2 linked regions of the Homo sapiens genome follow. The protein of the gene in region 2 purifies or fractionates together with the protein of the main gene of each other region. This does not show direct contact. Each region holds a gene or a part of one and is shown on either strand. Other genes may lie near its edges. The genes, in order: CDK8 and TICRR.

The links.
Region 1: the proteins of TICRR (region 2) and CDK8 purify together in Homo sapiens (affinity purification with western blotting; one study listed by BioGRID). This does not show direct contact.

The regions. Positions count from the first base shown.
Region 1 is NC_000013.11:26,347,839-26,351,666, reverse strand, and holds part of CDK8 (cyclin-dependent kinase 8), read right to left. Parts: intron 2,596-3,828; coding exon 2,485-2,595; intron 1-2,484.
Region 2 is NC_000015.10:89,599,381-89,603,208, reverse strand, and holds part of TICRR (treslin), read right to left. Parts: coding exon 3,734-3,828; intron 2,625-3,733; coding exon 2,524-2,624; intron 1,912-2,523; coding exon 1,818-1,911; intron 1,721-1,817; coding exon 1,641-1,720; intron 1,473-1,640; coding exon 1,233-1,472; intron 414-1,232; coding exon 317-413; intron 1-316.

The sequences.
Region 1 (3,828 bases), on a different chromosome or scaffold from region 2:
TACAATATTACCCACAATAAAATTTGCTGAAGTATAATCATTGTACCTACATGTAAAATTAAATATTACAAACTAGCAGCTAGAAATCACATTGAGTGAAATATTATACTATCTTCTATGCTCTACTGTGGTTTATCACAAATCTTGTTTATAAACCAGCCTGGAAAATGCCTTAAGTTTAAATTATATGACTTTATTTCTTATGAGGCTCAGCATAGTGAGTGTTCAATTTAATACTGGCCACGCTGATTTAACAGGGTTGATCTGATTAGATTTCTTTTAAAATAGAAGAACAGAAGAACCAAAGATTTAAAAAAAAAGAAGAAATTAATAACCAGCATGAACTTTGGAAAGAGTTTCATAAAAGAGAGAAAATTTCATGTATACATAATAAAAAGCATAGCCATGCTAATTTAGTAAATATAGATTAGTATGCAAATCAATACAATGTTTAAAGACATTATTAAATATCATTTAAAAAGCAGTTCACAGGAGTATAGTAATTCTTAATGAATTAACACAAGGTAATGTTAGATGTTTAGTTTACTTGTTTCTTAAACTATAATCTGTATTAACAGATGTTCTCTATACAGATTGATAAGAATGTCAATTTTGTTACTATGTTTCAAAATTACTTTGGCTATCCTATTATAGATTTTCTATATATATATCTCAAAGTTTTATCTGCAAGGTAACGTTTCAGATTTTTAAAAAATATATAAATGTTATATTTAATAAAAGAGCAAATTTTATAGTTACCTTAGAGTTCCTCAAATACCAATTTAAAAAATAATCTGCTTAGTAAACTGCAAAATACTGAGGCTGGTGTTTGTATTTCAGCTACTCAGACAAGATAAAATTAAGTTCTTATTTTACAGTAATTTTTTTCAATATAGCATCATTTTCTGCAATGCATTAGATAAACTAATAAACTGGCTGGGCTCAGTGGCTCAGGCCTGTAATCTCAGCACTTTGGGAGGCCGAGGTGGGCAGATCACCTGACATCAGGAGTTAAGAGACCAGCCTGGCCAACATGGTGAAACCCTGTCTCTACTAAAAATACAAAAATTAGCCGGGCTGGAGTGCAACAGTGCAAACAGGACCCACTGCAGCCTCGACTTCCTGAGCTTCAGCCCCATGAACAGCTGGGACCACAGCATGTGCCACTGAGCCCAGCTAATTTTTTTTATTTTTTGCAGAGACAGGGTCTTGCCATGTGACCCAGGCTTGTCTCAAACACTTTGGCTCAAGTGATCTTCCTGTCTTGGCCTCCCAAAGTGTTGGGACTACAGGTGTGACCCACTACACTTGGCCTAAAACTATTCTTATCATAGGTCAGAAAACAAAGAACTAAAAGTCCCAAGAGATATTAAAATTTATTTTCACACGAATCTTATTTTGTAATAGAGCTCTCATCCACAAAAAATTCCTCCAATGCAAGATTATGCCCAATTCAAGTAAGTACAATACAGTCATGCATCACTTAATGAAGGGATACATTCTGAAAAATGTGTCGTTAGGCAATTTTGCAGTTGTGTAAACATCACAGACTGTACTTACACAAACCTAGATGATAGACTCTACTACAAACCTAGGCTATATGTTATAGCCTCCTGCTCCTAGGCTACAAACCTGTACATGTTACTGTACTGAATAAGGAAGGCAATTGTGACACAATAGTAAATAAGTGTGTTATCTAAACATATGTAAACATAGAAAAGGTACAGTAACAATATGGTACTATAATCTTAGGAGACCACTATCATATATGCAGTCCCTAGTTGACAATAACATTATATGGCGCATGACTATACTGTATTGAACTACTGCCACTGAAAATAAGAATTAGGATATTAAATTCAATTGTGAATAGTTAATAATTAATAACAGTTTCCTACATTTGTATATTTATAAAACTTTTCAAATACAAGATTGTTCCTCAGAAAAACGTTGTTAAAAAAGGCAAGAAAGTATTACATTTTACAGATGGGGTAAACTACAGCTTCAAAGCCATTAAAAGACTTGCTTAATGCTATACGACAAATAATGGTAGAACTATTAGATCTCTCCAAAGATAGCATATTCGTCCTCCTACATGAGGATACCACCTTCTCATTTTATGTTCCCTTTATACAACGAAATAAAAGGAAATATGCTACTTTTCTATTTTAGAGCAAAATTTTATATATATTAGTTACTTTTTATTTTATCAAAAAACTATATGAAGCAATATTGAATAGTTGTTGAACACTCTTTAGATTCTATTGTTTTCTTTAGTATCTGTTAAAAGATCAAAGTGACAATATTGAAAAGTAATAATACAAAGTCAAATACTCTAGCCTTCGTCATGCCACCAACCACACTCTATGAGGTTACTTTTATTTTAAAAACATAAGTCTCATAATAAGCAGAACACCTAACTGTTTTTAGTTACTCTTAACAATCCCTGACTGTTTGCTCATGTCTGCCAGCAATTCACCTTACCCAGAGGTCATGTTCAGCATAGTCAAACAGAAGCCACACCTTCCTATCAGCATGAGACAGAAACACCTTTTGAAGAGAAATGACGTTTGGATGCTTAAGCTCTCGAAGTAACTGCAAAACAAAGGAGATGCATTAACTATTTCTGTCACAAAAATAATGTAAAAAACCCCACACCATTTGTAATTCAAAGGCAATACAAACCCACAGGTAAACAATCTTAAACATCTAATAAGCACCCACACAATTCTGAGACGGATACTTCAGTAACAAATGAGAAGATATCTGTGAGGAAAAGACACTGAACAGGTATTATCTGAGTAAATCTATTTTGTTGTTGTTTGGTTGGTTATTTTAATTTTTTGATTGTGGTAAAATATATCTAACATAAAAAGACCATTTTAATCATTTTTAAGTGTACAATTCAGTGGCATCCTATAAGTATATTCACAATGTTCTGCGATCACCACCACTATCCATTTTAGAATTTTTTTTGTCATCCCAAACAGAAACTCTGAATCCATTAAACCAGCGGTTCCCAACCTTTTTGGCATCAGAAACCATTTTTGAGGAAGACAAATTTTCCACGGATAATGGGGTGGAGGTGCAGGGCGGGGGCTGGGGGAAGGGGCAGATGGTGGATGGTTTCAAGATGAAACCGTTTCACCTCAGATCATTCATTAGGCATTAGATTCTCATAAGGAGCATGCAACCTAGATCCTTCACATGCGCAGTTCACAATAGTGTTCAAGCTCCTATGAGAATCTAATGCCACTGCTAATCTGACAGGAGGCAGAGCTCAGGTGGTAATGCTCGCTTGCCTGTGGCTCACCTCCTGCTGTACGGCCCAATTCCTAACGTACCGGTGCTGACGCAGGGACCCCTGCGTTACACAATAATCCCACCGCCTTTTTCCCCAAGGCTCTGGTAACCTCTACTCTACTATCTGTCCCTAAGAATCTTCCTAATCTAGATATTTCATGTAAGTGGAACCATACAATATGTATCCTTTCATGCCAGGCTTATTTCACTTAGCCTATTTCATTCTTTATGGATAAATATACTCCACTCTATGCATATCTATATATATATCTATATAGATATATATATAGATATCACATTTTGTTTATCCATTCATCTGTTGATGTTCATGGATTGTTTTCACCTCTGGTTATTGTGATTAATGCTGCTATGAACAGTGGTATACACTATCTGATGAAAGTCCCTGCTTTCAATGCTTTGAGCATAAACCTAAAAGTGGAAATCCTGGATCAAATGATTGCTCTGTGTTTAACTTTCTGAGAAACCACCAAACTTGCAGCTGTACCATTTTACATTCCCATCTGC
Region 2 (3,828 bases):
TCCAGTGACTGCTTTGCTTATTTTAGTTATTGTTTTATGAGTTTTCCTATCTACATTAAAGATTTTGAATTAATTCATTCCTAACTTTTACTTGCCATTTTTCTTCACATTACCTCTAACTATCACACTCTTGAGTAAAATTGTTAATCTCTTGACAAGTTTATATTTCTTTATTCCTTGGATTATAGTTTTATACACATTCATAAAAATATTTAATATTATTTCTGTATCCTCCAAAGTTCATTTTCCTAAAAGTAGGGACACTGCCTTTTTGTTCTTATTTACTGTGTCATCTCAAGCTGGAAGGTTTACTTACTTTTTTCGTAGCTCTCTTTGACACTTTAGGAATTTCAATTTGTCGAAGATTCTGTGAAACCTCAGCAATGCTTTTATGTCTTATTAATGCATTTTTCCTTTTAAAAATAGAAATAGTTAATACATACTAGATAGAGGTTATATATAGTTAAATTCAAATGGAACTGGAGTCTAAGTAAAATAAAATATGATTTAAATAAAAGCCAGTTATCTTAAGGTTGTTCTGGGTTTATAATAAAACAAGTCACCCCAGAATTTTCAAAAGTAACAAATTCAACCAGTTATGAACAACGAAAAGCATCAAGGGAAATTTAAAAAGCTGAAACTCTAAGCTTATTTCATAGAAGGCCTAGTTTCTGGAGACCTCATGTGGACAGTAAAGAAGACTTTGTGAAATAGGAAATAAACACTATACAGTCATGCAATGTTTCCTTCAATGACGAACTGCATATATGACAATGGTCCCATAGGTTATAATGGAGCCTATATAGAAACCTAATAAATGACACTTGATATTGGCATTACAGATCAAGTAGGGGAAATGACTGCTATTCAGTAACAATGCTGGAACATTAGCTTTTCCATATGAAAAAATATACATAAATGAAAAAATATATACTATCTAGGTTTTGGTAGGCACACTCTGATGTTAGTACAACAAAAATTGCCTAACAATGCATTTCTCAGGATGTATCCCTGTTGTTAAGCAAAACATGACTATATATTTCCTAGATAATATAAAGATTGTCAGATGCTCCTATTAGGAGCTCTAATAGTTGGCTTCTCTGATTCAGACATAAGGGCAGCTATTAGTTCAACAAATTATATGGACAAAGATGACTGGACTGTAGTTTAAACACATCTTTTATCAGAACTATAACAGTGCAAATAATTCCTTTGATTCTTTGACCTCTTACCTTCTCTTCTTGGCTGATCTGGTACGAAGTTCCTGCAGTTCATCAGATTCAGGGCTGCCTGACACTGATCTACGAGCACTTGACAAAAAAGGCACAGAAAGAAGTGGTGATTTGTTCTCTTGTGTCATGGAGTCATCACTGAAAAAATCTGTAGGAAGGACACCAGCCAGCTTCTGAGGAATCACAAACCCTAGGCTGTTGTAAAGATTTCCAAGTGTCTTTGGGATAGAGTCAATATACCTGTGGAACAGATTGATCGAATACGGAACAGTTACCATCTTACCCTCTCTATTCCCTCCCTCACCCAGCCTAAAAAGTAGTCCTTACAACTCCAAAATTCAGAGACAACACCATACATAGGTTTTGACAAAACAATTTTAAAGTTAAGTTAGTAACCATCAAACTTACAATCTCAAAATTTCCTCCAGAAACTCTGCTAGGTACGCTGAATCCTCAGTTAAACACACCATGCGCAGCAAATCTGTCACCTGAAGGAGATTTTAGAACGTTACTATATAGATGCCCTCTGCAGGGAAGCTGAAAGCATCTAGGGCGTATTTCAATGGCACGAAACTATATACTTGCCTCCTCCACTACTTGTTCCATATCATCTGTACTTTCATTTATTGAAGGGCATTGCAGACACATCTCCAAACGAAGAAATACCTGAAGCTGGCACCTTGAGAGAAAAAAATACTTGGTCATATCTACTTTGGATGTCACTAAACAAAAAGCTCCTTCCGTAAGCATAGATCTATTTATATAAGACACAACAACCAAAAAGGAGGAGAGCCAGTGCCTTTTCTAAAAACTGATGTAGTTATTAGATAAATAGGTGATTCAAGCTGCATATTATAACATAAAAAAGAATTGGCTACAAAAGCATCTTCATGCAGTTGGTAATCTTTTTTTTTTTTTTTTTTTTTTTCCTGAGACAGGGTCTTGCTCTGTTGCCCAGGCTAGAGTGCAGTACTGGGATCATAGCTCACAGTAGTCTTGAGCTCCTGGGCTCAAACAATCCTCCAGCTTCAGCATCCCAAGTAGCTAGGGCTACAGGTGTACACCACCATGCTCACCTAATTAAAAAAAATTTTTTGGTAGACACGGTCTCACTATATTGCCCAGGATGGCCTCAAATTCCTGGCTGCAAGCAATCCTCCTGCTTTGGCTTCCCAAGGTACTAGGATTACAGGCATGAGCCACCATGTCACGAACAATCTATTTTAAACTGATACGAGCTAATCTCACAGCTTTTAGAGTGATGATTTTTTAAAAAATGGTAGTTACTTACTCTCTAACTTTGTCTTCCTTATCCAGTTTTTTTCCTAGATTCTGTCGAAGACTTTTACTAGTTTTTAAGAGACTACTTTTTACTTGATTCAGGCAGTTCACCTAAAAATACAAAATTATTACATAGGAGAATAGTGTTACTTGTCATTATTTCTAATTTCTTTCACAGTTGACTAAAGGGAAATATATTCCCTTATAAACTTCTCTATTCTTTCATTTGAATGAAAAAGTGACGTGAATATTCTTCTTTTATATCTTTAAAAAGAACATGGTAAAAGTTATTTTGAGAGCTAGTGGGCATGGATAAAACAAGCCTGCCCTAAATAAAGTGTCTTAAAAGAAACGTTCCATAAAGCAGTGCTTAAGAAACCTAAGTATCATAAACAAATCCTCCTGTTTGCTTTAGAGAAGGAGCTCCGTGATGGCCACTGAACATGAATAAAACAACAACACGGTCTAAAACAGTGGTTTGCAACACTCCCAGTGCAAAAGGATTATCCAGGGGGCTTTTTAAAAGCGCCAACCCCAGAGATCTGTTTCAGTTCATCTGGAGAGAGCAAGGCATATATATATATTCTTTGGAGATGGAGTCTCGCTCCGTTGCCCAGGCTGAAGTGCAATGGTACGATCTTGCCTCACTGCAACCTCCACCTCCCAGGTTAAAACGATTCTCCTGCCTCAGCCTCCCGAGTAGCTGGGATTACAGGCACCTACCACCACATCCAGCTGATTTTTGTATTTTTAGTAGAGACGGGGTTTCACCATGTTGGCCAGGCTGGTCTCAAACTCCTGACCTCGTGATCCACCCACCCTGGCCTCCCAAAGTGCTGGTATTACAGGCGTGAGCCACCACGGTTAGTTGGCATATATATATTTTTTAAATGCTGTAAGTGATTCTAAAGTATAGCCAGGGTTAAAAACCACTGGCTTAATCATGCAGCTAACATATAGCTCACATGAGGAAAGGCTTTTCATTAGGAGAGAATTATATGTAATTATCCCCGCTCACCCCATCTCTTTGATTTCTGCCTTACCAGTTCACCATATCCACCTTCTGAGATCTGGAACTGTACTTACTCCCTTACTTATCTTACCATTTTTGAATCACATATGACATAACAGACATTTTCCAAGACACTAACCAAATCCACCACCAACCAACCAACCAACCACTACATCCATGACAAACAACAATATCTGGACCCTCTTACTTCTAATTCCTTGGTGCCTTTTGATTTTAGGAACATTTTAACGGTTGAGATCATGTTTCGAGCACATGCATACAACATGATTTCTCCTGTGGCCA